2 linked regions of the Homo sapiens genome follow. The protein of the gene in region 1 interacts with the protein of each later gene in a pairwise test. Each region holds a gene or a part of one and is shown on either strand. Other genes may lie near its edges. The genes, in order: CYP4F22 and MSMO1.

Region 1 (16,117 bases):
CCCTCTAGACGCAAATAGTAACCACCGGTTGTGACAACCAAAAATGTTTCCAAATAACAACGAATGTCATCTGGTAGGAAAAATCACCCCCATTTGAAATCGCTTCACTAGCTTTTGGAAAAATATATAAAATATTTATACTAAGGCTTCCCAAATATACATGCCCAACCCAAAACTCTTGAATTGGAGAACCGTTTATTCGACTGACATGTCCAATTCCTCTGAACCAAAACTGACATCCTGACATCTCCCACAAAACAACTTACTCCACTCAGCATTCCCCACGTCAGCTGATGGCAGTTCCATTTTTCCAGATGTTCAAGCCCAAACCTAGTGTCCCCCACTTCTTTCAAACTTCACGTTTTATCCACCACCAAGCCTGACAGCACTGCCTTTGTGAACAGTCACTCCTCCTTGGAATCCAATTGCTCTTGATCACATCTAAAGACCCCGGCTTGGTTGAAGCCACCATCATGTCTCACCTGGACGAATGCAGTCACCCCTAACTGATCTGCCTAGTCCCATCTTTGCTCACACTGTCTCTGTTTAACAGAGCACACAAAGTCCTGTGGAAGTCCTGGCATGGTGGCTCACACCTGTAATTCCAGCACTTTGGGAGGCTGAGGTGGGAGGATCGCTTGAGACCAGGAGTTCAAGACCAGCCTGGGCAACATGGTAAGACCCCCGTCTCGATAACAAATACAAAGCTTAGCTGGGCATGGTGGTGTGTGCCTGTGGTCCCAGCTACTCAGGAGGCTGAGGCAGGAGGATCGTTTGAGCCCAAGGAGGCCAAGGCTGCAGTGAGCTATGGTTGCACCCCTGCACACCAGCCTGAGCAACAAAGCATGACCCTGTCTCAAAAAAAAAAAAAAAAAAGTTCGTATGACAAAGCTTGTCCCTCCTCTGCTCAGAACTCCCCATTTCTGTCACAAAAAAAGTCACAGAAAAGGCCCTGTGTGAATTTACTTCTTTCTTTACTTATTTATCATTTATCATATCTCCTCCCTAGAGGTAAACTCTGGGAACCTAGGGCTCAAACAGTGCCTGTCTCACGGCAGATTGCCCAAGAAATATTTGGTAAATTAATTTTTTTTTTAGACAGAATCTCACTCTGTCGCCCAGGCTGGAGTGCAGTGGCACAATCTCGGCTCACTGCAACCTCCACCTCCCAGGTTCAAGCGATTCTCCTGCCTCAGCCTACTGAGTAGCTGGGATTACAGGCACCCGCCATCAAACGTGGCTAATTTTTGTATTTTTTAGTAGAGACAGGGTTTCACCATGTTGGCCAGGCTGGTCTCAAACTCCTAACCTCAGGTGATCCACCTGTCTCAGCCTCCCAAAGTGCTGGGATTACAGGCATGAGCCACCGCACCCGGCCTGTTGAATTAATATTATTGTCTCTAGTGACCTAGATGGAAATAGTCTACAGGCAAATGCTACCTAAAAGGAAGATGATACCACTATTATACCACCACTATATATATAATGATGGCATATATAGTGCATATATATATATTATATATGTGGTATAATAGCAGTATCATTTTCCTTTAGTGTAGCATTTTATATGTATAAAATTGCTGACATTGTCATTGCCCACCTTTTTTTGTTTGTTTGTTTTTGGAACAGGGTCTTGCTCTGTTGCCCCAGCTGGAGTGCAGTGGTGTGATCATAGCTCACTGCAGCCTCAAACTCCTCAGCTCAAGTGATCCTCCTGCCTCAGCCTCCCAAGTAGCTGGGACTACAGATGTGCACCATCACACCTGGCTAATTTTTTATTTTTTGTAGAAATGGAGTCTCACTGTGTTGCCCTGGCTGGTCTCTAACTCCTGGTCTCAAGCAATCCTCCAGCCTCAGCCTCCCAAAGTGCTGGGATTACAGGTGTAAGCCATCACGCCTGGCCCCCATCTTTTATATTCCCATATCAGGGACTACTCTACCATCAAGTTCCCTCAGCCAAATACCTGAGCATCACCCTTACCACCTCCCTCCCCTCAGCCCCCACTGCTAGATAGTCACCCCAATCCTGGCCCTTCCTGTTGTCTGGACCTCAGCTTCCCTCTTTCCCAGGGTCCCAACCCCGCAAGTCACCTCCCTGCCAGCCCTAGATCTGGCCATGTCCTGTCCTGATCCCGCTCACACACTCTCCATGGCTCCCTATTGCCCTCAGCATAAAGCCTGTGCATTTGGCCCCTTCCTTCATTCTGCCCCCACTTCCCAGATCCAACCACCTGGCCCCTGGTGAGTTCCTCAAACACACTCTGTTCTCCCTCAGCTCAGGGTATTCTCAGATGTTGTTCCTTCTGCCTGGAATACTCTTCCCTCCCCTTGTCACCCACTCAACTTCCATTCCAGCATCGGAGAAGCTCTCCCTGACCCATCCCCATCCCTCTGCTATATTCATCCAGCACCCGGGGCCTCTCCTTTGGAGCACCTGTCCTGGGTTGTAAATAAACCTTTACACGTGGAATTATTTGTTCAACATCTGTCCCCCACCCCCTAAGAAGGCAGAAAACAGGGCCTGCCTGTGGTTCTGAAGCAGTGCCAGCAAACAATATGTGATCTGTTGATGAAATAAATGAACACACAAACTGACCCCCAAAATCTGAGTTTATGTCCTAGGATAAATGGCTTTCCAGCCTCCTAGCCCGCAGCTTCGCTCAGTTGCAGAGCCCCTCATTCCCATGCTGGGGGCTCCACGTGTAAGGATCTGGCTGAGCTAGGGGTGGAGGGTGGGGTAAGTCTGCATCCTTTGCTTTTATTCTGCAAAAACAGAACACTCAGCAAAGGATCTTTGGGCAAGGGAGGAAGGAAGGGGCTTACAAGGGTCTGAGTTTACAAAACAACAACAAAAGCAAGCAGCCTCGAACCCTACGATCCAGCCTCACGCCTGAGCAGTCTGCCCGTATGAGCTGAGGGCCTCAGGAGGGTGATGTCCGAGTTAAAAGCTCTGACGTCAGGCTCCAGCTTTCCTCAGTTTGGAAGCCTGCCAGGGGTTCAGCCAGTTGGGGGGGGGTGGGGTGTGGTGGGCCCTGAGTCATAGGTGGGTCTTAGGTCCTCTGAAGGCTCAGTGGGCAAGGCCTGGAGACCTGGATCTGCAGGGGCGTGGCCTGAGGACCTCAATCCGTAGGATCCTGGGGGCGGGGCCTGAGCCCAAGGGGGCAGGGTCGACCCTGGTCCCTCAAACAGGACAGGTGCGAGAAGTCAGGGGGCGGGACCTAAGCCTCAAGGGGCGGGATCAGGCCCCCTAAGGGGAGGAGCCTTGCCTTGAGGGGCGTGGCCAGTACCACCAGGCTGCTCAACAGCGGTGCCTGGTCATCCAGGAGCTGAACCTGAACTTCGAGGGGGGTGGCCTATGCCCTCGGGATCTTTGGGGCGAGTCCTGGTCCTTTGGGGGCGGGGCCTGGACCCTCGGGAGCCGCAGGGGCGCGCCCACGCTCAGGCCCGCGGAGGCAGCGGCTCCACCTTGAGCCAGAGCCCGTTCTCCGTGCGCAGTATGAGCTCCGGCTTCCGCCGCACCTTGCGCGTTCGGTCCACGCTCAGGCGGAAACGTAGCAGTGTTAGTGCCACAACCACGCGCAACTCGGCCATGGCGAAGCTCTGTCCGATGCAATTCCTGGAGGAAGAGGGGACAGGGCTCAGGCCCAGCTTCTGTGTGAGCACTGGTCCCCGGGGGTCACATGCCTCCTTTGAAAATGAAGCAAGCATCCTGGGCTGGCTGAGGGTTAAAGTGAAACCCCACGCTGGGTGAGGGTTAAAGTGAGACCCCACGGATCGCTCAATTAATGTGACCTTGGGGTTGAGTGTCTGAATCCCAGTACAGCCTCTTACTAGCTGTGTGTCCTGGATACACAGCGCCCCCTCTGAGTCTCAGTTCCTTCATCTGTAAAAACGGGGACAAAGGCATCATAGAGCCAATGGGAGCGTGGGAGCCCAGAACTCAGGGCCTGACACACCGTTGGTGCTCAATACCCAGGATGCTATTGCAGAGTCTGATTTGGGGGCCTCCTGGCGCATTGGGGAGAGGGTGCTGGGTCTTCAGAAAGGACGCCTGGGTGCCATCTGATCTCTGCTCCTGAGAGGCACATTCCTGATCTTTCCCTGCCTCTGTTCCTACACAGCTGGCTTGGACTAGGGGAAATAGAGGGGTTACCTGGGTCCTGCAGAGAAGGGCACATAGGCCAGTGGAGAGCGCTGCTGTGGGTTGTCCGGGTCAAAGCGGTAGGGGTTGTACACCTAGGGAGGAACAGCCTGGAGATGAGTCTGGGGGCTGCCCCAGACATCCCAGCCTGGCCCCCTTCCCTGAGCCTCTGGGGGTCAGTAAAGATGGATGGGGAGCACCCCAGGGCCACCTCTTCCATTCCACCTTGCACTTCCTGCAATGCAGCCACACCTGCCTCCTTCTGTTGTTCACACGCACCAGTGAGATTCCACCTCAGGGCCTTTGCACTTGCTGTTTCCTCTGCCTAGAACAGGCTTCTCCCTGATCCTTCATCCCCTAAGTTCTCAGCTCAAACATCTCCTCGGCAAGGCCTTTCATAACCACTCGAGCTAAAGTGCCCCCTCCACCTGTTTTTCTTTTTTTTTGTTTGTTTGTCTGTCTTTGTTTGTTTGTTTGTTTGTTAGAGTCAGAGTCTCACTCAGGCTGGAGTGCAGAAGCGCGATCATAGCTCATTGCAGGCTGGGCGCGGTGGCTCACGCTTGTAATCCCAGCACTTTGGGAGGCCAAGGCAGATGGATCATCTGAGCTCAGGAGTTCAAGACCAGCCTGGCCAACATGGTGAAACCCCATCTCTACTAAAAATACAAAAAAATTAGCCAGGCATGGTGGCACACACCTGTAATCCCAACTACTCAGAAAGCTGAGGCAGGAGAATCTCTTGAACCCAGGAGGTAGAAGTTGCAGTGAGCCAAGATCGCACCACTGCACACGCTCCAGCTTGGGCAACAGAGCAAGACCCAGTCTCAAATAAATAAATAAATAAATAACCATAGCTCATTGCAGCCTCAAACTGCTGGGCCCAAGCGATCCTCCTGCCTCAGCCTCCCGAGTGGCTGGCACTGCAGATGTGCATCACCATGGCTGGCTAACTTTTTTTTTTTTTAGAAATGGGGTCTCACTGTGTTGCCCAGGCTGGGCTGAGCTGGAACTTCTGGCCTCAAACAATCTTCCCATCTTGGTCTCCCAAAGCACTGGGATTACAGACACAAGCCACCACATTGGGCCAACTTTTTCCTTTTTGGTAGAGATGGGGGGTCTCGCTGTGTTGCCCAGGCTGGTCTCAAACTCCTGGGCCCAAGCGATTCTCCCACCTTAGCCTCTCAAAGTGCTGGGATTACAAGTGTGAGCCACTGCACCTGTAAACCGGAACTGGCCCAGTTTTTCTTTCTTTTGTGCATGTATCAATACCCAAAATCTTATTTATTTGCTTATTGTCTTCCCCAAAACTTCACTGTGAGCCCTGTAAAGGCAAAGACAGTATCATCCTCTATTTTCAGAGCCCAGCACACACTCTGGCACACAGTAGGTGCTCAATAAATATTTTCTGCCCTAATGAATTAACAATCAGTGGGTGAATAAATGGCTAAATGCGGAGTGGGGAGGGGTGTGCGCACTCAGGCCCTGCAACCAGCCCTGCTCGCTGGCTCCCTGGGGCGCAGGGGAGGGGAGGACCTGAGGGCAGGGAGGAGTGGGGCAGGCACTCACCTTGGAGTCAGGCCACACTGTGGGGTTGTGGTGGGTTCCATAGATGCTGACCAAGCAGATGATTCCTGTGGGGAAAGATGGGATCAGTGGGGCCAAGGGGAGCCAGGGCCTCCTCCAGAAACATCCCCCAACTTGGGTCTCCCTAGAGCCATGATGTTCCCATGAGCCATCTGCCACCACCTTCTGTCCATCCTTCTCTAAAAAATTCTGCTGCCCCATCCACTCTTCCCACCTTTCCCTAAGAGGAACCTATCATCTTCTTTCTGGCTGCCAAGCTGGCCACATAGGGATCTTTCTTACTCGCAGATCTGACATTGCTCCTCTTCAGCTCAAACACCTACCTTGGCTCCCTGCTGCCCCCAGGATTGAGTTCAAGCGCCATCACCTGGCACTCAAGGCCTTTCAAAATCTGCATCCTGAGGCTCTACTCCATAAACATGCTCACTCTTTCACTTCCACACTCCAAGCCTCACCTCCCACATTCCCTCCTCCAGGCAGCCCTCCCTGCATTCCTCTCCATATTGGAGCTACTCCAGCCCCTGTCTCTCCCTTTAGCCCATTCCTGATTCCATACGCCTGGGAATGTCTGCACCCTGCTGTATCTCCCCCAGAAAGGGCAATACTCAAAACCTGAGCCAGGGTCCCCTGTATCAACCAAGGCAGGGCTTGGTCTCCAGGGAGTAACTGGCAACTGAATGAAACTGACCCTCCCCAACTGCACCCTCACAGGCCCATCCCTGCGACACTGCCTCCTTCCTTTCCACCTGGACTCACCCGGCTCTATCTCCCTGCACACACAACTGGGTTTTCTCCAACACCCCAGAAGCAACAGGCACACAGAGAGCTATCCCATCTGCAGGGATAGTGCACCTGGGGCAGGCATAGCCAGGCCCCTGTGGACAATAGAGCAGCTACATCATTGGAGGCAGTGCACCAGCAGCAGGCGGAACATGGTAGGCACCTTTGGGGATGATGCGCCCATCTGGGAGCTTGATGTCCTCCGTGCATTGGCGAGAGACAAGAGTGACAGGTGGGTACTGGCGCAGGCTCTCCTTAATGCACATAGTTGTAAAGGGCAGCTGAGTCAGATCGTCCCTGGGGAGAATGGAGATATAACTAGAGGCCGAGCCACCATGGCACCACCTCCCCAAAACACACACACACACACACACACACACACACACACACACACACACACACTCTCTCCCTCTCTCTCTCTCTCTCTCTCTCTCTCAGGGGCAGCTGGGCAAGAAACCAGTCCAGGATTTTAGACTTGCCCCAATTTCTGCCATTTGCAGTTGTCTCATGCACAGGTGGGAAGTACTAATATTTAGTGGTTTTTTTGTTTTTTCTTTTCCTTTTTCTTTCTTTTTTTTTTTTAAGACCGAGTTTCGCTCTTGTTGCCCAGGCTAGAACATAGTGGCGCATCTCGGGTCACTGCAACCTCAGCCTTGCAGGTTCAAGCAATTTTCTTGCCTCAGCCTCCCAAGTAGCTGGGATTACAGGCATGCGCACCCACACCCGGCTAATTTTTGTATTTTTAGTAGAGACAGGGTTTCTCCATGTTGGCCAGGCTGGTCTCAAACGCCTGACCTCAGGCAATCCACCCACCTCGGCCTCCCAAAGTGCTGGGATTACAAACGTGAGCCACAGTGCCCGGCCAGTACTAATACTTAGGATGCAAAGTATCTGAGCACCAACCGCTCAGAACAGCACTAGCACTGGGCCCTCTGCTGGGCCCAGCATTAAGCCTTTAATTGATGAATTATGTGGAGGTCCAGGGGCACCTAGGCGAGGTGCCAGGACAGCCAAGGGGACTCACGGCAACAGCAATATGCCAGTTTATATGGTCCATTTCTGTACTTAAAAAACTGCTGCAGGACAGGTGTGGTGGCTCTCGCCTGTAATCCCAGCACTTGCAGAGGCTGAGATGGGCGATCGTCTGAGGTCAGGAGTTCAAGATCAGTCTGGCCAACATAGCAAAACCCCATCTTTACTAAAAAACACAAAAATTAGCTGGGTGTGGTGGCGTGCACCTGTAGTCTCAGCTACTTGGGAGGCCGAGGCAAGAGAATTGCTTGAACCCGGAAGGCGGAGGTTGCAGTGAGATGAGATTGCACCACTACACTCTAGCCTGGGTGACAGAGTGAGACTCTTGTCTTAAAAAAAAAAAAAAAAAAAAAACTGGTGCAGGCCAGGCATGGTGGCTCATACCTGTAATCCCAGCACTTTGGGAGGCCGAAGCAAGTGGATAACTTGAGCCCAGGAGTTCGTGACCAGCCTGGGCAACAAAGAGAGACCCCATCTCTACCAAAAGTTAAAAAATTAGCTGGGCATGATGGCACACACCTGTGGTCCCAGCTACTCAGGAGGCTGTAGTGAGCTATGATCATGCCACTGTACTCCAGCCTGGGCCACAGTGTGAGAGCCTATCTCAAAAAAAGAAAGAAAGAAAAAAAGAAAAAAGAAAGAAAAGAAAAGTGCATTATCTCCTTATAATATCATTTACTTAATATTTTTTCCCTTGGACTTTAGGGCCCAAAATTGGGCTAATGATAACTCTTGGTTCATGTTCTAGATTAGATTAGTTTCTTTAAATTAGCAGGTTCTCTTTCTTTTTTGATGGCGTCTTGCTGTTTCATCCAGGCAGGAGTGCAGTGGCACAATCTCAGCTCACTGCAACCTCTGCTTCCCAGGTTCAAGCAATTCTCACGCCTCAGCTTCTCAAGCAGCTGGGATTACAGGCACACACCAATACGCCCAGCTAATTTTTGTATTTTTAGTAGAGACAGGGTTTCACCATGTTGCCCAGGTTGGTCTTGAATTTCTGGCCTCAAGTGATCCACCCGCCTTAGCCTCCCAAAGTGCTGGGATTACAGGCATGAGCCACTGCACCTGGCCCAGGTTCTCTTTCAAAGAAACTTTATGGCTGGGCACAGTGGCTCACACCTATAATCCCAGCACTTTGGGAGGCCAAAGTAAGAGGACTGCTTGCACTCAGGGATTTGAGAGCAGCCTGGGCAACACAGCAAGTCCCCATCTCTTAAAAAAATGTTAAAAATTAGCCAGTTGTGGTGGCACACTCCTATAGTCCCACCTACTCAGGAGGCTGAGGCAGGAAGATTGCCTGAGCCCAGGAGTTTGAGGCTGCAGTGAGCTATGATTATGCCACTGCACTCCAGCCTGTGTCTTAAAAAAAAATAAACTTCATGTTGCTATAAAGGGCAAACAGCATCCCTGGCATAAAGGTATTCATCCATACAAACACCACTGTGAAAGCAGTAGTGTGTTATTAAATTGTGTCTACACACCAACTCCCACCCAACTCTCTCAACCTGAGACATCTTCTCCACTTGTTTAAAAGGAAGATTAGCAAAGTGTTCAGGACACAGTAGCACCCCACTGAGCATGTCCCCCTGAGGCCATAAGGCAAAAGGTTGAAATAGAACCGAAAGGAACCTCCTCACTGTGTGAGTTGATGCTATTTAATGTTGCGGCTGTGTTTTTCTTCTTTTCTTTTCTTTTCTTTTCTTTTTTTTTTTTTTTTTTTTTTTGAGACAGGGTCTCACTCTGTCACCCAGGCTGGAGTGCAGTGGCGTAATCTTGACTCACCACAGCCTCCACCTCCTGGGTTCAAGCAGTCCTCCCACCTCAGCCTCCCAAGTAGCTGGGACTATAGGCATGCGCCACCCCACCCAGCTAATTTTTGTATTTTTTTGTAGAGACAGGGTTTCGTCATGTTGCCCAGGCTGGTCTCAAACACCTCAGCTCAAGCAATCCACCCCCCTCGGCCTCCCAAAGTGCTGGAATTACAGGCATGAGCCACCACGCCCAGCCTAATGCTGTGTTTTCTTTTCATCACCCAGAATCAGCTCTACATAGCATGAATCTGGTAGAGACTGGGTATGTGTTCTGATTCTCCACTTCCTCCCTGAATTAGAATTATATACCTGTACCCTTTGTCATATGATTCTTCAGTGCCTTCTGCTCAGGTGAGTGGAGTATATGTCCTGCCCCATTCATGCTGGGCTTGGTCACGTGACTTGTTTTAGCCAATGCAATCTTCTAGTGCAAGCACAGCTTTTGTTTTTTTTTTTTATTTTATTTATTTACTTATTTTATCTTTTTTTGTGGGGGGGTGGGGACAGAGTTTCACTCTTGTAGCCCAGGCTGGAGTGCAGTGGTGCAATCTCAGCTCACTGCAAACTCCACCTCCCAGGTTCAAGTGATTCTCCTGTCTCAGCCTCCCGAGTAGGGGGGATTACAGGCACCCATGACCGTACCTGGCTAATTTTTGTATTTTTAGTAGAGATGGGGTTTCACCATGTTGGCCAGGTTGATCTCGAACTCCTGATCTCAGGTGATCCACCCACCTCGGCCTCCCAAAATGCTGGGATTACAGGCGTGAGCCACCCCACCCGGCCCAAGCAAAGCTTTTAAATTTCATGGCTTTTTGTGCTTCTGGAATCTGCCTTGAGAAGAATACGACCCAGGGTAGCCTCTGGTCCAAAGAGAACAGAAAGGGAGTATATGAAGCAGATCTGAACCCAGCTCTTAGTTTTGAAGCAACTCCACTCCACTCAGCCAAGTCCAACAGCAATTAGAGTAATGAGCAGACAAGAGCAAGAAATGTGTGCATACAAAAGCAAGAAACAAATGCTTGCTGTAAACCACTAAGTTTGGGAGCTGTTCATTATGCAGCATCATTGCAATAATTGCTGACTAGGACACTTTGAGAACTTCTGCATTATGAGGTGGGCATAGGCACTATAACCACCCCCATTTTGTAGCTGAAGAAATTGCAATTCAGGAAGCTAAAGTGGCTTGTCTGAGGTCACACAATCAGTAAGTGGGAGAGCAGAGGCTTACACCCAAGGCTCTGGCCTCAACCTGCCCCCTCCATTCCCCTGACCCCACACTCACCACTCCAGCTCCTCCAGCTCCCGGCCTTTCATGACTTCCTGAATCTCTTCTCGGCATTTCTCCTGGTATTCCGGATACTTTGCCAAATTGAACAGCATCCAAGAGATCCCACTGGATGTTGTGTCGTGACCTGCAGGGAGATGAGGGTATCTGAATGGAGGCTGCCTGAAGAAAGCAGAGATGCTGTCTACAGACAATGATGTCCCTTCCTGCCCTCCTCCAGCCTCACCCCACATCCTCACCCTCAAACATGAAGGTGTCTGCTTCGGCTCGGATATCCTCGTCTGACAGTTCCTTTCCATCTTCATCCTGGAATGGGCAGTAGAGGGTGCTCAGCCCACTTCATCCCACCCTCCGCATCCTAGGGGCTCCTCAAAACTCAGATATCTCCCCGCCCCCATCTTTTTTTTTTTTTTTTTTTCTGAGATGGAGTCTCGCTCTATCACCCAGGCTGGAGTGCGGTGGCACAATCTCGGCTAACTGCAGCCTCCGACTGTCAGGTTCAAGTGATTCTCGTGCCTCAGCCTCCTGAATAGCTGGGATTACAGGCACATGCCACCACTCCAAGCTAATTTTTGTATTTTTAGTAGAGATGCAATTTTGCCATATTGGCCAGGCCGGTCTCGAACTCGTGGCCTCAAGTGATCTACCTGCCTCATCCTCCCAAAGTGCTGGGATTACAGACATGAGCTACCACGCCTGGCTCCCCTCTCTCTCTTAAGCCAAGCTGTGGGGGGAACTAGTCCAGGAAGATGGAAGTATGCAACTTGTCTAATAAAGATGGAAAGTGCCCAGCATGGTGGCTCACACCTATAATCCCAACACTTTGGGCAGCTAAGGTGGGAGGATCACTTGAGCCTAGGCGTTCAAGACCAGCCTGGGCAACATGGTAAGACCCCATTTCTACAAAAAAAAAATCAGCCAGGTGTGGTGATGCATGCCTGTAGTCCCAGCTACTGGTGAAGCTGAGGCAGGAGGATTAAGCCCAGGAGATCAAGGCTGCAGTGAACCATGACCGCATCACTGCACCCCAGCCTGTGTGACAGAGCAAGACCCTGAGTGAGAGATGCTGGTGAGGCTGTGGAGAAATAGGAACGCTTTTACAAGGTTGATGGGAACGTAAATTAGTTCAACCATTGTGGAAGACAATGTGGCAATTCCTCAAAGACCTAGAACCAGAAATACCACTTGACCCAGCAATCCCATTACCGGGTATACAACCAAAGGAATATAAATTATTCTATTATAAAGATACACGCACACATATGTTCATTGCAGCACTATTGACAATAACAAAGACATGGAATCAACCCAAATGCCCATCAATGAAAGACTGGATAAAGAAAATGTGGTACATATATACCATGCAATATTATGCAGCCATAAAAAGGAACAAGATTATGTCCTTTGCAGGGACCTGAATGGAGCTGGAAGCCATCATCCTTAGCAACCTAAGGCAGGAACAGAAAACCAAACACCACATGTTCCCACTTATAAGTGGGAGCTGAACAATGAAAACACACGGACACAGGGGGGAAACAACACACACTTGGGGGGCCTATCAGGGTGGCAGGAGGAGGGAGAATATCAGGATAAATAGCAAATGCATGCAGGGCTTAATACCTAGGTGATGAGTTGATAGGTGCAGTAAACCACCATGGCACATGTTTACCTACGTAACAAACCTGCACGCCCTACACACGTATCCTTGAACTTTCCATTTAATTTAAAAAAAAATTTTTTGAGATGGAGTTTCTCTCTTGTTGCCAGATTGGAGTGCAGTGGCGCAATCTTGGCTCACTACAACCTCTGCCTCCAGGGTTCAAGCGATTCTCCTGCCTCAGCCTCCAGAGGAGCTGGGATTACAGATGCATGCCACCACGCCCGGCTAATATTTTTTTTTTATTTTTAGTAGAGACGGTGTTTCAATATGTTGGCCAGGCTCGTCTTGAACTCCTGACCTCAGGTGATCCTCCCACCTCAGCTTCCCAAAGTGCTGGGATTACAGGGGTGAGCCACTGCGCCCGGCTTATCCTGGAACTTTAAATTACATTTTTAAAAAACAAGAAAAAAGAAAAGAAAGATGTAAAGAGGGACAGAAAGTCAACAGTGAGGAGAAGAAGGAAGTTCATATTTCTTGAGCAGCCTCCAACACCAAGCATCCCACTGGATGCCTGACAACCTTGTGATCAGGTTTTATGATCACCATGGTATAAATGGAGAAACTGAGGCTTGGGAAGAAGAGTCAATGACTAAGGTCAAACATCCACTAAGCGACAGAGCCAGGACTGGAATCCAGGACTATTTGAATCCAGAACCCAAAAGGTCCACAGACACACCAATGAGTGACCATAGAAGTGTCTCATCTCTTCAAGGTCATGTATTTCTTTTTTTTCTTTTTTTTTTTTTTTTTTGAGACGGAGTTTCACTTGAGTGCAATGGCATGATCTCAGCTCACCGCAACCTCCGCCTCCCAGGTTCAAGTGATTCTTTTGCCTCAACCTCCCGAGTAGCTGGGATTACAGGTGTGTGCCACCACGCCCGGCTAATTTTGTATTTTTAGTAGAGATGGGGTTTCTCCATGTTGGTCAGGCTGGTCTCGAATTCCTGACCTCAAGTGATCCACCTGCCTTGGCCTCCCAGAGTGCTGGGATTACAGGTATGAGCCACCACGCCCAGCCCAAGGTCATGTATTTCATTTTTGCAATTGTGATGAGCTGAATGGTTCCCTGCCCACCCCCCCTCCGCTAGAATTCATAAGTCCTAACTTCCAGTACCTCAGGCTATGACCGTGTTTGGAGAGAGGTCTTTGCAGAAGTAATCAAGACAAAATGAACTCATTAGGGCAGGGCCCTAATCCTTATACAAAGAGACGAAGACAGAGACAGGCACAGAGGGAAGATGATCCGCAGACATAGGGAGAAGACAGCCTTCTGCAAGCCAGGGAGCAAGGCCTGGAACAGATTCATCCTTCATGGGCCTTAGAAGAAACCAGCCCTGCAGATACCTTGATCTTGGACTTCTAGCTTCCAGAACTGTGAGAGAATAAATGGCTGATGTTTAGGCCATTTAGTTTGTGGTACTTTGTAATAGCAGCCCAAGAAAACTCACGCAGTAAGTCTTACATGTTCTGACCCCATCCCAGACCCATGTGAATTTCTTTTTGTTTTGAGCATGTGTATTGTTTTGTTTTGTTTTGAGACAGAGTCTCGCTTCTGTTGCCCAGGCTGGAGTGCAGTGGCACCATCATAGCTCACTGCAGCTTCCAACTCCTGGGCTCAAGCCAGACTCCTGCTTCAGCCTCCCAAGTAGCTGGGACCATAGGCATGCGGCACCACACCCAACTTATTTGTTTTTTGTAGAGACAGGGTCTCCCTGTGTTGCCCAGGCTGATCTCCAATTCCAGGGCTCAAGCGATCCTCCCGCCTTGGCCTCCCAAAGCGCTGGGATTACACGTGTGAGCCACCACGCCTAATGGAGTTTTAACACTTATCATTTTACATGCAATTCCTCGGGAGGCCAGCCCTCGGGAGGCCAGCAATTCCAGGGGGCCCAGCCTCACCCTGGCCAGGAGCAGCACATCAATAAAGTCCAAGGTCTTCCCCTGCTTGGCCTTAAGCCAGGCCTCGGCCCCCTGCTGACGCAGTGCCCGCCGCCGTTCCTGGATGACTTCAGTGGTGAAGTGGTGCACCATGTCACAGGCCTGCCGGAACCTCCGCCCATCCGCCGAGCGGTAGTAAATGAAGTCGAGGTAGTGGTGCAAGCGATACTGGCGCCGGACAGACAGAGCGCTCAGTTCAATGATAGCGGAGATATAATCACTCATCTTCCTGCCAAGGAGAAGGGGATCCATGAGTGTAGCCCCTTCCCCTAGCATAGCACAGCCCTGGCTTGGCTAAGATAAGCCTCCTGTCCCCATTGAATAGATAACAAAGAGAAGCCCTATATTAACTCTATTTTTAAATTCATTTATTTATTTTTTTAGATAGGGTCTTGCTCTGTCACCTAGGCTGCAGTACAGTGGCACAATCATAGCTCACTGCAGCCTTGAACTCGTGAGCTCAAGTGATCCTCCAGCCTTGGCCTCCCAAAGTGCTGGGTTACAGGTCTGAGCCACCACACCCAGTCTCGGGTATATTTTTGAACAGGCCCAAAGAGGGATAAAGACTTTCAACATAGGCATAGTCATTGTAGCATCACTAAAACTAAATGGTTACACTCCTCAGCATGGGAGAAAATATTTGCAAATTGTCTATCTGATAAGGGATTGGTACCTAAAATAAATAAAGAATTCTTAAAACTTATTTTAAAATGGGCAATGGATATGAATAGGCATTTCTCCAAAGAAGACAGAAATTTCCAATGAGAATGTGAAAAGATACTTAACAGCACTGGTCACCAGAGAAATGCAAATCAAAACCACAATGAGATACTACTTCACCCCACTAAGGTGACTAAAATCAAAACTTATAATAACAAGTGTTGGGCTGCACTCCAGCCTGAGCAACAGAGCAATATCCTATCTCTAAAAAGCAAACAAAACAACAACAACAAAAAAAAGCAAGTGTTAGTGAGTATGTGGAAAAACTGGAGCTCTCATACATCACTGGTTGGGAGAGCAAAATGGTACAACCACTTCATACCATGTTGAAACCCACTGAAATAAAGTTTAGCAGTTCCTCAAAATGTTTAAAATGGAATTACCGTATGACCCAGCAATTCTGCTCCTAGGTATATAGCCAAAAGAATTAAAAATGTATGTTCACACAAAACTTTGTGCATGAATGTTAATAGCAGCATTATTCATAAAGGTCGAAAAGTGGAAACAGTGTCCATCGATGGGTGACTGGATAAACAAAATGTGGTATTATGTGGTAAATGGAACATTATTCATCAATGAAAAGAAATACATAACTGATACATGCCACAATATGGATGAGCCTTTAAAACATTATGCTGGGTGAAACAAGCCAGACACAAAAGTCTGTATGATTCCATCCGTGTGAAATATCCATAACAGGCAAATCTATAGAGATAGAAAATAGATTAGTGATTGCCTAGACTTGAAGGAGAAAGGGAAGTGCACGGGTTGCTAAAGTGTATGAAGTTTCTTGGGGTGGGGGAGGATTGATGAAAATATTCTAAAATTGATTATAGTAATGGTTGCACAACTCTGAATATACTAAAAGCAGTTCAGGTGTATTCTTTAAATGAGTAAATGGTATAGTATGTGAATTGTGTCTCAACAAAGCCATTATTTTTTAAAAACTAACAGGTGAAGCAGGCTTGAAGGGAGCTGTCCTCAGTCCTGAAGTGGGCTTGTTTTCATGCACTTATTGCAGTCTGTCGTTTTCTTGTTTGTTTACTTGTTCATGGTTATTACCTGTCTTCCTACTAAAATGGAAGCTCTAGAAAAGCAACATCTTGTCTTTCTTGTTGAATATGGTGTTCCCAGCACCTAGTTCAGGGTTGGCACTTACTAGGCAC
Region 2 (16,117 bases), on another chromosome or scaffold:
AAAGTTATATTGATTCTATATGTAGTGATGATTTATCTAGTCATACACTTATAAATAATACTAGCAATTCTCAATAAAAATACCTTACTCCACATCAAAAGTCTAGGGATATAAAATCTTGCTGTCTTTGATGGTTTAAGATAAAGGCATTAAATAATTGACTTGAACTCTAATTTTGACTTAAGTATTTATATTTGTTCTTCTAATAAAGAGAGGCTTGATTTGGCACACCATGTAATCACGGTCAATGCAAAACATACTCACATAACCAGTTGACAAAGCTACATCAAAGCAATTCTAATTGGCCGGGCATGGTGGCTCACGCCTGTAATCCCAGCACTTTGCGAGTCCAAGGCGGGTGGATCACCTGAGGTCAGGAGTTCGAGACCAGCCTGACCAACATAGTGAAATCCTGTCTCTACTAAAAATACAAAATTAGCCACGCGTGGTGACGCATGCCTGTAATCCCAGCTACCTGAAAGGCTGAGGCAGGAGAATTGCTTGAACCCAGGAGGTGAAGGTTGCAGTGAGCTGAGATCATGCCATTGCAGTCCAGCCTGGGCAACAAGAGCAAAACTCTATCTCAAAAAAAAAAAAAAAAAAAAAAAAAGCAGTGCTCATAGAAGTTACTGTTTTTGTGGGAGTTAGCAATGTGAGGATCTAGCTGTGCCAGTGTAGCACTGTCCACAAGGATGGAAGTCCGAACTTTCATATAATATTTTTCTTTCAGATCTCAATTTACCATGAAATTTAAATAATGAAAACAATGTGTAGAAATGGCTTGTTTGTATGTGTGTGTATTGTTCTTAATAATCATGCCAAAGGAAAAGAAAATAAAAACGTCACCAACAATTTTAGAAAAATGCTCAGGCAATTAAAATAGACATTTTGCCTCTAACAGAAAGAATTAAATATAACTCTCACATACCTGAAACTCATGATGAACTTTATGAATATACTTGTATATTCTTTTGTGGTGTAAGAGTCTATGCAGAAAATAGTGCCAAGTATCTTCAATGACTGCACAACCAAAGCATCTTGCCAAAAGAAAATACCTTTAAGATAAAAATGTTGTAATGTGTAAGAAATAATTTTTACTTAAACTATCCAGACTTTTAGTTGGGATCACTGCTTGAGACATTACATAAAACCACCCACCCACTTACCAGGTTGACCTAATTGGATATATTCATAAATAAATTCTCAAAACCACCAGATACAGCTACATAACTTGATATAAGGTTAAAGAGACTGCCCATTAGACCAATTTCATTTCATTACAATGTTCACACAACTTGCCTCATGACACTTTTCTCAAGAGATATCCGTTAAGTGACGCATGAGTATATATATGTGTGTGTATATATATATGTGTGTATATATATATATATATATATATACACATACATATTTTTGTTCATGTAAACACAATTTCTATAAACCTCATAAATGATTCTCATATATTTCATTCATTTTAAAATTAAAATGTAATATATTTTTGTCAACATAAGCACTTATACATGTATATAAACATACAAAAGACGTTATGGAAACTTCTGATACTAGAAGCTCACCTTCCAATAAAATATTTAAAAGATGTAAAAATGGAAACATTTTAAGATTTTACTGTGGTTTACTTTTCTACTATTTATTTACTTCCAAAGTTTAGAACAAACATTAACTAAAATTAAGAAAACGGGTAAACATTAAGTATAACTTAACTGAATAAGCCACAATTGGGTGTAAAAGCCAAATTTTTATCTACGTACCATCTTGGCATTCTTTCCCAATCATAAGGAATATTGAAATACTCTGTAAAATAATAGGTTCCACAAATCAAAGGCAGCTGGATACAGAAGTGATTAAAGAGAAGAACTTTGAAACACTTCCATTGGTTTTCCCATGTCTCTGGCTTATCCTACGAAGAAAAATCACAATATCTAATATTAGTCTCTGCTATCAGAGTTTAACTTGACCTAATTTGTTCTCTGTTTATGTTGGACCTTAATTCTACGTCAGTTATGTTAACTTTATATAACTAAGACTCAGGAATCTTTGCCTTCTAAATTCTTGACAACTACTATCACTACTTCAGGTGAAGAAACTGTTAACAGATGCGCCTAGCCATGATGATCTCAAACAAACTAAGAAACACTATGGAATGAATAATTCTCCAGTCTTTGCTGCCACAGATCATTCACTTCACTTCTTTTACCAGAAGTTTCAGAGAAGAAGAAATATAATATGCTAAGATTACTGTTGGGTGTCCACAATTGAAGAAGTTGTATACGAAGCATTGGAAGCCTTTTACACAGTAAGTCGATGCTTCCAGGCACTCAGTGGTATTCATTCCAACAAATAAATGCACTTTTGTTCAAATCCAATGACAGAATTATAAACTCTCTGAGTTGAGAAGTACACAGATATGTCCTGATTATGGAGTTCACAGATTCAAGTCAAAATGAGAAAAGTTAGATCAACATGGGATGTTCGTTAAGACCTCATCAGGATACCCATTTGCTTAGCAAGTCATTATAAAAAACAAAGCAAAACAAAACAAACACTAACTAAATGTATTCAATTTATAGGACTGCACTTAAAAAAGTGCTTTGGGCTTAACAAAACGATGGTGACAATAAATATCAGTTATTGCTTTGTTTTAAATGTCACTGCTGAAAAATTCAGGTATCCGCCAACAAAACTCTTTTAATTGAACCACGATATCCAAAGTACGGGAACTACTGCGCATCAGCAGAAGCCCAAAGAGGTCAACCAGCTTGGGCAGGGTCACACACGCAGTTATTAGCAGAAGTTGGACTAACTAAAATCTAGGTCTCCAGATCCAGCTCTGTTCTTGAAATTCTTTAAGGGTTATCTTCCTGACAAAAATAGGAAAAGCACTGAACTAAGAATCAATCCAGAGACTTGTGCTCTAATACCAGGGCTGCTACTCACCAGTTAACTAGCTCTTGTGATGTTTACAACTCAGTTTCTTCAACAATAAAATGGGAGGATCTGACAGCTGCCTTTGTATTTCTAATCTGAGCATTATCTAACCCCACTCCTCTAAACCTCCACTCTGTAATTGGGGACAAAATAAATGAAGGATTCAGGCTTCAGTTGGCAATAGTACTGTCTCCTACAGCAACTATGGTTAATAGACTTAATTTTCCAGGTAGACTGGGATATCGATGCAGTTACAGAAATTACAAAGTTAATCAACTATAATAAAATCACATGCTATACCATTTACAGTATACATAAATTAGTTACAAAGACAGTTAGCAATACAAATTCATACCTAGTGCAATATGAAAGTTTACCATATTTTACTTTCTTTATGCATAACTGTACTTAATATAAAGGAATACCTTTACAAGGGCCACAAACTTCAGAAATAATATTTTTAGTACATTTATCTTTGAGGAAAATTTTTGGAGAATTACTAAGATGTATGTTTTTTTTTTTTTTAAAGAAATAGATCCTGCAAAGTCTGCTTTACTTTTTCATTCCTGTGAAATTTTCGCCTAACTAGCAAGGATGTGCATTAGCTCTCCAGTTGTCTGTTCTGTTTGAAAGCAGAAAGTCTTTAGTACTATTTCATCACCACCACCAACTTCTTCTATTCTTTTCGACAATTTTAAGAATAAAAACATTTATTGCATATGTTAAATATAATTCTCAAATATTTTATCTTAAACAATTGATACCCTCAATGTTAATCAGGGTATCTGCCTTCGAAATGCATAAACCTGTAATTAATTTGTACCAATATTTTGGTTTCTTTTAAAACTCCTTTAACTTGTGAAAACTAGTCCTGGTTTAAAATCACATTTTTTATCAAAAATGCTCAAAGCATGGACTTTAATGGTTATGAAACATAAAGACTTGCTGAGTACAGACTTGAAGTCAAATTATCCAGCCTTACAATCTGTTCATAAACAACTAGCTCTGACCAACTAGACTACAGCTTATTCTTTCCTTTGCCACATTATATTTTAAAGCTGCTCATATACCCTTGCCTGAGAAAGTCCTTTGTCTCTCTGCAAAGGTTACTACTTCTAACCAGTGAGTCAGTTACAAACTGCAGTGAAGGAGAAAAAGGATGCTTTTGCCTGGCCAGCCATACAATGAATTACAATGAATAAGCCCTATAAATAAATCACTGGGTGAAACACGGCAGCCACAATCACCCTAAAGGTGCATTAGAACTTAGACGTCCAAACTTAATTCTGCCTTTCAAAGCAGCTGCTTTCCTAAAAAGCACTTTGGAGCTTCTGTGACCTTAATTGAGGGTCACAGAGTACTCTCCTTTGGCCCTCCTATTTTTTATTTCCTTCGCCTTTACCCTTTGCTCTTTTCTCCTTTGGCCTGGAGTCCACAGTCATCTGACCCCTGCATTATCCCCAGAGAGGACTAATATTAATACCTGCTTAAAGTGAGACTCTGGGAGAGGCTGTGAAACTAACAGAATGATAACAGAGAATGTGTACAGACTGCCATCCAAAATATATACAGTTGTCCTTTGGTATCTTTTGAGGATTGGTTCTGGGACTTTCTGCAAATACCAAGATCTGAAGATGCTCAAGTGCCTGATATAAAATGACATAGTATTTGACATAACCTACACGAATCCTCTCGTATACTTTAAATCATCTCTACAGCACTTATAATACTTAATAAAATGCAAATGCTCTATAAATAGTTGTCATTTTGAATAATGACAAGGAAAAAAAAGACTGTACATGTTCAGTGTAGACACAATTTTTTTCCCCTGAATATTTCTGATCTGCAGTTGGTTGGATCCATGGATACAACAACCCATGGATATGGAGGGCCAATTGTACTAAGTGAATGTAAATTACTTTCCATAGATGAATACTCTCAATGGTCTACTTTCTACCAAGACTGTGTGCCCCTGAGTTTTAGTTTGGAATGACTTTTTATGAAAAGTAAACAGCAAACACTAGAAACTATCATCAGCTTACAAATTCTAACAAATAATTCATCTTTCTAATAAGCTACTCCAAATTCTCACGTCAAGCTCACAGGCTACATATGAGATTTCACCTTGTCATGTACATAGCGACCTCTCAACATTTAGTGCAATGAAGCAAATATCCAGAAACGAGGAGCATCACCTCCTTATTTGGGATGATACGAATGCTGCAGAACTACCTACCATATATTTAGGGAAAAAAAACTTGAATAGCCCTGATCAAGGTCGTAGTGTATTAACAGTCCCTTAGATTTACTGGAACATAGAGTTGGGGTGAACTGCAAAATATGCGCAAATCACCACACCTTTCCTTTCCAGCTAGCTTAAACATTAAAATTCATAAACTTAAGTTAGATAACCATCACATCTACTTAAAGCCCAATTTAACAAAGTATTCTTGAAATGTTATCAATAATGACCTAGGACTGTGTTGCTCAATTCAGGAGCAACTAGTAACATGTGGCTTCCAAACACTTTAAACATGGCTAGTCTAAATTGAGATAGACTAAAATTAATGTAAAATACACACGGAATTGCAAAGACTTATTAAATATCTCATTAAGTATTTTTTAGAATTTGATTACTGATTGAAATAATAATTTACATTTATTTCTTATTTTTTTTGAGACAAGGTCTCACTCTGTCGCCTATGCTAGAGTATAGTGCTGCAATCTTTCTGCTTCAGCCTCATAAGTAGCTAGGACTTACATCACCATGCCTGGGTATTTTTGTATCTTTTTTGTAGAGACAGGGTCTTGCTATGTTTCCCAGGATGGTCTTGAACTCCTGGCCTCAAGCAATCCTCCTGCCTTGGCCTCCCAAAGTGCTGGAATTACAGGCATGGACCCTGCACCCAGCGATAGTTTACATTTATTGAGCTAAATGATACACATTATGAAATTAATTTCCTTATTTCTTTTTACCTTTTCTATGTATTCTACTAGAAAATTTAAAATTACATACGTGGCTTCATATTTCTATTGGATATCACTGCTTTAGCCTCACAAAACAAAGCCCTATGTACTTTTAAAATATTCAGCAACATTAATGATAATATTCTATTTCTAGTCCCTTATACTCACCTTTTGAATTTTGTATTTTTTCATATAAGGTATAAATTGAAATAAAAATCCAGGTAAACAGAATAAGAAATAAAGGGCTTCATGAACTATAAGGGATCCCCATGTTGCAATCTGGAACTTTGTATAATTATTCAACATATAGTTCCAAGCATTTTTAAATGGTTCTTGCAGAGGATTCTCAGGTAAAAGTGAATCTACATATTCCACAGCCAAGGATGCTGAACTAAAGATGCTGACACTTTCATTTGTTGCCATTTTTCAAATCTCTGCAGACAGCCTTATAATTCTGTAGAAATGAATACATATATAATAAGTTAAACAATGAGCTTTCAAAAAATAAAACAGTTAAAAAATGCATCCTCTGATCATTTTAAAAATGATAATTACTAAAGGAGTATAAATTTTTTACCAAAAAATTACTAAAGGAGTACAAATGGTTTTACACCATTTTAAAACATTTGCTGGATATCATCACCATTTCTATTTGTAGATATTCCTTTAAAAAACACATTATTTTCAAGAACAATAGCTAAAAGAACAATAGGGGAAAAATTTTTTCAAGCTATATTTAAAGAAATCGTCAGTGTGGTTCTCATGGAAAAGGTTCTAATTTAAATGAGCAATAGCTGGGTTTAAAAGTATCACTTAAAGCCAAAAGAACCTATAAAGAAAAAGCCTGCCAAATATGAGTATATAAAAATTAAGTACCTCCTACTGGGGAATAGAAAGACAAAGTCAAAGATTAAATGACAAACTGGGAAAAATATTTCCAACATTTTACAACAAAGGGCTACAAAGTGTGCTTTAGAAAAAAGACTAAAAAGACAACAGAAGAACGACAAATGCCATTCACAAGCAGTTCACAGAAAAATAAAGGCAAATGGTCACTAAACAAGGAAGAATCTTCACTTCATTAAATGAGGAAATGCACCCTAAAACAAAGAGACACTTTTAGCCTGAGTAGCAAATCTTTAAAAGCTTATTAATGTCCAGTACTGGTAAGAGGGTGAGAGAACAGGCATGACCACACACTGTGGGCAGGGGGGATACATCAGTGTATCATTGGAGGAAAAATTAGCAACACCTAATTCAAAATGAATACATCCTTTGATCCAGCAACTTTCTCATTCAAGGGTACAAAGACAGATCCGCTAAGATGGAAGGAAGCATTGCTTGTAGCAGCAAAAACAAAGAGGAAAAAATAAAAGCAAAACACAAATAAGCCATCAACAAGGTATGGGTTAAATAAATTAAGTCCTTCCATAGACAATTATACAGCCATTTAAAAGAACAGGGAAGATCTATACGCTCTACATAGAAAGATGTCTAAGATACAGTGTTAATCCAAGTAACAAGTTACAGAACAGTATGCATAGCAAGAGCCCCACTTAAGATTTTTTGAAAAGGATATGTATTTTATCTATGCACTTTTATGCATATGTATATACACAGACACACAGAAACAAAAAATGTACATATGGATAAAGGGAAAAATTCACACTGGTGACTTCTAGGAAAACAGAGTTGTGTGGCAGGGCAGGAGATAGTGTTAATGAAGACAGCGTGGCGGGGTAGGGGAGAGTGTTATGGAAGACAGCTCGGCGGGGTAGGAGACAGTGTGGTGGAGTAGGGGACAGTGTTATGGAAGACAGAGTGGCGACGGGGTAGGGGAGAGTGTTACGGAAGACAGAGCGCGGCGGGGTAGGAAATAGTGTTATGGAAGACAGAAAAAAAAATCTGACATATGTCTTTTGCACAATTTAAACTTTTTAAATGAGCATGTTCTACTTACCTAATAAATAAGCTCAATAGGTCACTAACCAAAAAATAAACTTCTCAAGGGTCACTTTCCTAAAAATGTTCACCACTGCTGCTTCTAATTTATGAATTTTTTGGACCATTTTAAAAATGAGTATTTTAAAGCCTCAGAAGCATTCTAAATAGTGCTTTAAAAGTCCCCTTCCCCAACACTTCTCAAACTGACCTTTTATCCCATTCTACAGAAGGAATATTGAGAACCTAGCCAACTCCTCCAGGCATCTGAATTCACTTCAGGCCGTCCTCCTTCTGTCCTACTCATCTCAAATGACTTACACCACAGTGACTATAGTGTTCCATCCTGTGTCATTACAGGCCTTAAAATTTCTTTGCTCATTCATTCTTTCCTCTAAGACTGACTAGTCTTCCTGTGTTCTTATCTTACCTCAAGAACTTGTCCATCACTTATCCTTTCCCATCTTTCATCCTTCTCCCTTCATGGAATCCATTCCTTCAGGTCTAAAAACACATTCACGTCTTTTCTTTTTTTTTTTCTTTTTTTTTGAGACAGGGTCTCACTCTGTCACCCAAGCTGGAGTGCAGTGGCACAATTATGGCTCATTGCAGCCTCGACCTCCCAGGCTCAAGCAATCCTCCCACCTCAGCCCCTCGTAGCTGGGACCACAGGCACATGCCACCACGCCTGGCTAATTTTTTTAATTTTTTGTGGAGACAGGGGTCACCCTATGTTGCCCAGACTGGTCTTAAACTCCTAGGCTCAAGTAATCCTCCCATCTCAGCCTCCCAAAGTGTGGGGATTATAGGTGTGAGCCACTGCGCCCAGCCTACATCTTCCTTTGTTGATAAACACCTTCCTAGCCTCCATTACCTCTTCCAAGCCACTGTCCCATTTATCTTTCTTTGAACCAACCAACTTCTTTCTCAAAGGAGAGCTCTACATAAAGATTGCTTAACTCAGCTGGGCATGGTGGCTCACGCCTGTAATCCCAGCACCTTGGGGAGGCTGATGCGGGCAGATCACCTAAGGTCAGGAGTTCAGGTGAATCGCTTGAAATGAGGAGGTGGAGGTTTCAGTAAGCTGTGACTGCACTCTAGCCTGGGCACCAACAGCAAAACTCCGTCTCAAAAAAAAAGAATAAAAAAGGTTGCTTAACTCACCCACACAACTCACTGAGCTACTTGCAATCTGGCTCCCCACCTGCACCAAAATGTCTTCAATCATCTTCTAAGTTGTAAAATAAGGCAACCATCCAATCTTAATTTTTCTCAAGGTGATTAGTAAATTTGACAATAATGAACCAAGACCACTTACTAGTCCTGTCCTGTGACCTTGGGCAAATTAGGTAACCTCTCTGTGATGCAGTTTTATCAGCAGCAAAAATTAAAACAGTAGGTCTTCCAATGAGTCCAAGAGACAATGCATATAAAGCGCTTAGTTAGCACAGGACCTGGCATGTAATAGCTACAAGAAACTAACAATTATTGGGCACTTTCTGTGCCAAGAACTGTGTTCAAAGCATGCTACCTGCTCTCTACATTTTCACTTTAATCCTTACCACACCTTCGTGAGGTAGGTATTATTTTATCACCATTTTATAGATAAAATAACTGAGGTTTAGAAAGATTAAGCAACTTGCCCAAAGTCTAATGCTTAATGTTAAGTTAATGCTTAACAAATGCTAAGTGGGGAAGCCCATGCACTCATCCATTATATTACACTATAATTATAAATAAAACCCATAATAAGTATTAGAGTACAAGGAGAATAATTCCTACAGTTTACCTAAGCTCTATGAAAAGGTATTCCACGAGTTGTCTTTATCTTCTTATTTCCTGTTTATATTCTAGCAACTGCAATCTGCATTCTATTGTCATCACTGCACTGAACTTACTCTTACTAAAATCACTAAGGAGGCTGGGTGTGGTGGCTTACGCTGGTAATCCCAGCACTTTGGGAGGCTGAGGTGGGCGGATCACAAGGTCAGGAGTTCCAGACCAGTCTGGCCAATATGGTGAAACATCTCCACCAAAAAAATACAAAAAAATTAGCCGGGTGTGGTGGCGTATGCCTGTAATTCCACCTACTGGGGAGGCTGAGGCAGGAGAATTGCTTGAACCCGGGAGGCTGAGGTTGCAGCGAGCAGAGATCACGACACTGCATTCCAGCCTGGGCGACAGAGTGAGACTCCGTCTCAAAAAAAAAAAAAAAAAAAAAAAAAAATCGCTATGGATCTCCAGCTGCCAAATCCAATAAACCTTTTTTTTTTTTTTTGGAGTTTATTTGACTAATCTGGAAGATTTGATACTTCTCTTCTTGAAATACCGCCTTTCCTTGGTTCTTGGAACTTAAATGCATTCACTCTGACAAGTATTGTGCATTCATTGTGCTAGCTGGTGCCCTTACCCCTGAGTTCATAAAACATAAAATTTAGTGAGGAATAACAACTAGTGTCCAAACCATCAAAAATTATGTGATAAGAACAATAAAGGGGGGAATACACAGTGCTATGAACTTCTAGAGAAAGGTGCTATCTAAACTGAGACCTAGAACAGGAGAAGGAGGTGACAAATTAAAAAATAGAGTGAGGGAGAGAGGGTCAAGGGAGGGGTTTTGCATAGAGAGAACAGCAACTCCAAAGACTCAACCAGGAGATTAGAAAAAATATGAGAATTGAAGCTGGAAAGTTTCCCAATAATGCCTTCCTTACTCCCTTCTAACGATTCCAGATTGTCTTGGGTGATCTTAACTATTTTCTGTTTTAAAAATATGCTGACATCCATCATCTCTATCTCTAGCCCTCTCCCCTAAACTCCAGGATCTAATTATCCAAGTTTACTGGTCATATCCAGTCAGAGAGTTCAGAGGCACATGAACTCACTCAACAGGTCCAAAGGTTCAGTATGTGCTCCTCACAACCCCCGCCCAAATACTAGGCCTCCTTTAATGCCTAATTCTCAGACATAACGTTTTAAGTCTCTCCCATTCTGCTGCCTTAAGTCTTCAAACTCTTACCCAATTTAGAAACACTTGGTTTAGTTAACATTCAGGAATTTACTTTTCACAAAGGAGCGAGGGAATGGATATACTGTTGCTAACCGAACAAGGAATTAAAGAGGAGAGGGGAAACAAGGTCTTGGAAAATTGAATTTCCTTTTCCTTTACTCATTCTTGGGCAACCTAAATGACTGGAAGCCTGTTCTGGAACAGGTTGACTAGATAAATTTAGTTATTTGTGGATTCTCAGAAACCTTGAAGTTTAGCTGTCAGCCAGTCTCTGTCCTTTGGCACTTTAACACGGATTTCACCAGCTCCTTCATTTTCTGGACTTGCCCTGCCTCCAAGCTTGCCCTTCCTAAACCTTATTTCTAAGATGCAATGCCACGATCTATATAAATTTAAACATCAGAGATAACCTCCTTAAAACACTCAAAGTTCAAGGGAGTGCTTGCCCTAAGCATAAAGATCAAGCCCCGCTGTGATTGATGCACACGAGGCCCTTCCAGACTTCTTCACTCTTCATTTCTTACATTCTCGCCATCCTACACTTCACATTTTTGCAGTATCTGATCACTCATGGTTGCTACTGCTTCATTCCTCTCTGCCCACGGAAATATCGTTCCCTTACAGGTGATGTCCTCCCATTCAACTCCTAGTCATCCTTCAGTAACCTCCTCTCGGACGCCCTTCCCAACCCCACTACTCCCAAAGCACACTACATCTTACCTCCTTCTAGTGGTTCCTGCTTTTGTATAACTTTCGCCAGCCTATCACCCTGTGCTGCAACTATCTTCTACGTCCTGTCTCCCGAAGACAACACATTTTAAAGGGCAAGAAACATGCCCTAGCCTAGTTCCATCACTTAAGAATTTCACTCCGTTTTCATCCTTTCTAGCACGTACCTTAGCCTAGGCCCACCTTCACTCCAGTCTCCTTCCGCCCCGTCTCGGGTACCACTGCCAGCGTCCCGCCCAGCGCGTGCATCCGCACCCAGAACCCGCTCCCCTCGATCTCACGGAGCACCGGGTGGGAGCCCGCCTGCTCCCCCTTCCTCGCTCATGAGCCACTCCTCCAACCCCCTCACCTGAACGGCCGCGAGATGACTGCCGGCCACCGACACCGAGGACTCGCCAGGTGTTCCAACCTCGGAACCTGCCTCGCCTGGCTTGGGGGTGGAGCCGGGTGGGCCAGGCGGCCCGTCCTGTCGTTATTGGCCTGCGAGAGCTCCCGCCCCGCCTTCTCGGCGCGGTGATTGGTCTGTGCAGTTGCCGACATCGTGTGACTCGCGCGAACGAGCTCCTGGCGGTCCCAGCCATTGGCTCCGCGGATGGAGTGAGGATAGTGAGACCTGCAGAGCCAGCCAATGGTCGGCACCGCGGAGCGCCCGGAGGCGGGGAAGCGTGAGAGCGCGCCACGGCGTGAGGGGGCGGGCACAGACGGATGGCCGCCTCGCCCTGCAGCGCGGAGTCGCCTTGGCAACTGCGGTCCCGGCAGATTCCCAGTGAGAGCCTGCGCTGTGCGGGGGAGAGTGTCGCGCCGGCCGCCGTCCCAGGACTTTTATTTCAAATGTGACCTGTGTAGCAACCGCAGTTCCCAAACCCGGGAAGAAGAGAGTATAGATGAGTCTTAAAATCTATGTTGACTGTTTTGTGTTTCCAGACACCCTTGCCTTCCTTTTTCTGGTCTACCATTTAGATTTAGATCTTTCGTCTCCCTTGTTTCCCCAGCCTACGTATCCTTTAATAAATTCCTGCATTTTGAAAACGGAGAATTTCAAATGCGATTATCGTCATTTTGCAGATGAGAAATAAAGGCTGGGAAAGATTTAAAAAGATTGAACATCAAGGGAGAGTTCGGCTCCCAGGACCTTGACCTCGCTACATGGGCAGAGAACGCCCAGGTGTTGTTGCAATTGTTGTGCTGGACGATGAGTGCCCGGGGGCGGGGGCGGGGGCGGGGGCTTGACGCAGGTCTTTGCAGCTCTAAAGCTCAGTTTACACCATCTCTCAACATTAAAATATTGTGTACTGGGGTTTAATAATAAAACTGTACAGATGTGATAATATACTAAAACTTTCACTTAACGGAAGAGGTGCCTTTAAAGAAAAAACCGCACAGGGGCATCATTTGGGCTAGTGAAGGCCCTTTTTCCTCCTTCTTTATTAAGGTATAATTGACAAAAATTGTGTTTACGGCGTACACATGTTTTGATTATGTGTATATTGTGTCAAATATATACAGCTTCTGAAAACAGAATACTATTGTTTCATTCCTCCATGCTTTTGCTCAAACTGGCCCTTCTGCCTGGAATAATCAGCCATCTCCATGCCGCCCCATCAATTCAGGTACTATCTCCTTGAGGAAGTTCCCTCTTGAAAAGTGTCTTTTTTAGATTCAGTGTGACCTGTACTTATTCGTCTATCCCTCATGTTTGGCACACACATTCTTTGTAAAGTATCATGACAGCGGTCACGTCAAATGAAAAGAAATGGGATCTGTCCCTTGGTTGTCAGAGTCAGCCCTGTCTTTAGGATGCCTTTACAGTGGTGTCTGAAACCATGCCTATATACTTTATGAAGTTAATCTGGGAAAAAGGGGTGGGGGGAACGAAATTAAACCAAGCTTGCAGCACACTGAGGATTAATAATTAGGTCAGCTTGCTGTCTGACCCCTTCCTCATAATTGTTTGCCTATTGCTTCAGAATCATGTAGACTCTGTTACAAGGTTATAGTTTCCCCTAACTGCTCTATAGACAACAACTTGAACATTATGAAACGTTAAGTTTGTGCTTTGAGATAACCTTTCAGGTCCTTCGTACTGATGAAACTACTGACTCAGCTGGTCTGACAAGGAGCTGACTCACCAAAGAATGCAGTTCCCACATCCTGATGGTTTCATTCCTCCTTACCCCAGCCAATCGAGGACCCTAATTTTCCAGCCCATTGCCCTCCAGGATCCCCTTAAAAGCCCCAGCACAGAACTCCTCAGAGAGATGAATTTGAGGGTTTCCTCCCATCTCCTCTCGGCACCCTGCCATCACTAAACTCTTTCTCTTCTGCAAACCCTGCTGTCTCAGTGTATACTGTGCAGTGGGCATATGAATCTGTTGGTCCTGTAGTGGATGCTGTGGCACACCACCCAGATCCCCCTCTTCAAGACCTAAGCAGGCATTCCTCCAGCTGCTGAGTACTGCCAAAGAGAAGCACCTCTCCCCACGGGTATACCCCCTTTCTAGGCAACAGCTAGTCAAGTAACTGGTTGAAACGGGTATAAAATCCCCTAAACCAATGTAGGGCTACTTTGCTTGGCCATCCCAGCTCCAGAGCTCCCCATCCTATTGGTTGTGTGATGACTGCACTGCCACCCAACTTTTCTCTCTGCCCAAACCTGCCATCCTCTATCAGGTGAGCATCAATAGCACACACTATCGGGCCACACTTACTAGGCTTGGCATTTTATTAGCAGTGGATAAGTTACTTCTCTGTCTTATCTGGTACTTCTGTGAAATAATAATACCTACACCTCGAAGAGTTATTTATGATGATTACATGAGATAACGTATGTAAAGCCCTTTGCACAGTCTCTGGCATACAAGATATGATCAGTAAATGTCAGCAATTATTTCTGATTTGGAATTCTACCACAGTATTACATTTTCTAAATCAGAGCAGGTGTAGGTGTATGGAGGGGTCAGATTATTTTAAACCTTAAAGGCTTAGAGCTGGAAAAAAATGCTGATGCAGCAGCTCAACTCACTTATTTCCCTACAATGAAGATTAACAGGGGGCTCAGGGAACAATAGCTGTAATTTATTGAGGGCCCGCTGGATTTCAAGCATATTAACATGCATCATTTCTTTCAAACGCAACAACCTTGTGACACAGACACTCCTATTGCCATTTTAAAAACAAAATAAGGATTAGAGGTTAAGTAATGTGTTGAAAGTCACAGCTAGCAATTGATAGAGGGAGCTGCAAACCCAGAACCCTTTTGTTTCTATGCCCATGGGCTTTCCAATATACCACATGGCTTTTTTCCTTAAAGCCAGGATTAGAACCCCAGAATCTTGACTCAAAATATAGTTCCATTCTCCAGCGTAGCCTCCTCTCCAAAATGAGACACTGGCAGCCATGGAAGTCAGTAGGAGGCAGTGTGCTTAAGACAAAACTAAACCAAGATGGTGTCAGCACACTGCTATGTAATTTCATGTGACCCTTTTACACCTCATAAAGTTAAGTCTCATAACGCAACAGCAGTTAGGATTACAAATACCTGGGTTCTTATGCTGTAAGGAACGATAAAGAGATAATAAATACCAGGAATCATACACCAGACTCCATAAGAAACAGGGAAAGAACTGATAGTCTTCTGACAGTAAATACACCTTCCGCCTTAACCACAGTCATCACTGCTTTCAGCCAAGGAGGCATAGATCCCAACAAAGCAGGCAGACGAGTTGCTTCACAACGCAGGTATGTGGATCCAGCCTTGAACTCTGCTCAAACGTGGGGCTGCTTCCTTGGCAGGATTTCTAAGACACCTCTCTGCCTTCTTATTTTTCATACAACAATGGAACAGGCTGAGAACACTTCCATATGCCTTTAAAAAAATTTCAAACTGGAAAGACAAAGGTTGGCATGGGGGAAGGAGGTATGTCTAAAGTCTCTGAAATCATAGCTATGAATCCAGCTACTGACAAACCTTGGCAATTATAGTATAGCTATTAAAGCTTCAAAGATTAAGAAAGTAAAGATAGAGGTATTTGACATGCTATGTAGTTAAGTCTTTGTTACTTTAATAGGCTGAGATTATATTTTAAGAAAAGCTTTAAGATTTTTCAGATAAATCTTTAATTGATAGATTCATATAGAACATTAGTGTTTGGAAGTGATCAGGACAGACAGAGACCTCATACATTTTTCTTGGTGCCTCTGTCAGAAACAGCTGACTACTCCAAGTTCATTAGACCTTCAATATGTTTGTTGACAATGATGTGCTGTAAGGCAGAAATTCATGTTTTCATCAACTGAGCATAGGCTTTTTCTGATTAAATTCATTTATAATGGAAAGTTCAACTAAGTATTAAATGTGGTTCCATGTTTAAATTTGAATCGAAATGTTATCATAGCAATCTTTCCTCTTGATTATCAACTGGTCTAGCAACAGCTCATGCCAACTTTTTTAATTCCTGAGGAATGGTCACAATATCCCATCACCTCCTCCTTCCCCCTCTTCCCTTCCTCTGCTGTGTCCAGCAC

The links.
Region 2: the proteins of CYP4F22 (region 1) and MSMO1 interact in binary tests that used the Homo sapiens proteins (3 or more experiments, as listed by UniProt).

The regions. Positions count from the first base shown.
Region 1 is NC_000019.10:15,538,793-15,554,909, reverse strand, and holds the end of CYP4F22 (ultra-long-chain fatty acid omega-hydroxylase), read right to left. Parts: intron 14,461-16,117; coding exon 14,193-14,460; intron 10,940-14,192; coding exon 10,873-10,939; intron 10,761-10,872; coding exon 10,631-10,760; intron 6,803-10,630; coding exon 6,669-6,802; intron 5,773-6,668; coding exon 5,708-5,772; intron 4,237-5,707; coding exon 4,154-4,236; intron 3,617-4,153; coding exon 3,439-3,616; 3' UTR 2,593-3,438; downstream 1-2,592. UniProt on the Homo sapiens protein: A cytochrome P450 monooxygenase involved in epidermal ceramide biosynthesis. Hydroxylates the terminal carbon (omega-hydroxylation) of ultra-long-chain fatty acyls (C28-C36) prior to ceramide synthesis.
Region 2 is NC_000004.12:165,323,590-165,339,706, reverse strand, and holds the start of MSMO1 (methylsterol monooxygenase 1), read right to left. Parts: upstream 12,039-16,117; 5' UTR 11,943-12,038; exon of another isoform or gene 11,761-11,942; intron 6,368-11,760; 5' UTR 6,337-6,367; coding exon 6,082-6,336; intron 1,919-6,081; coding exon 1,770-1,918; intron 1,056-1,769; coding exon 929-1,055; intron 1-928. UniProt on the Homo sapiens protein: Catalyzes the three-step monooxygenation required for the demethylation of 4,4-dimethyl and 4alpha-methylsterols, which can be subsequently metabolized to cholesterol.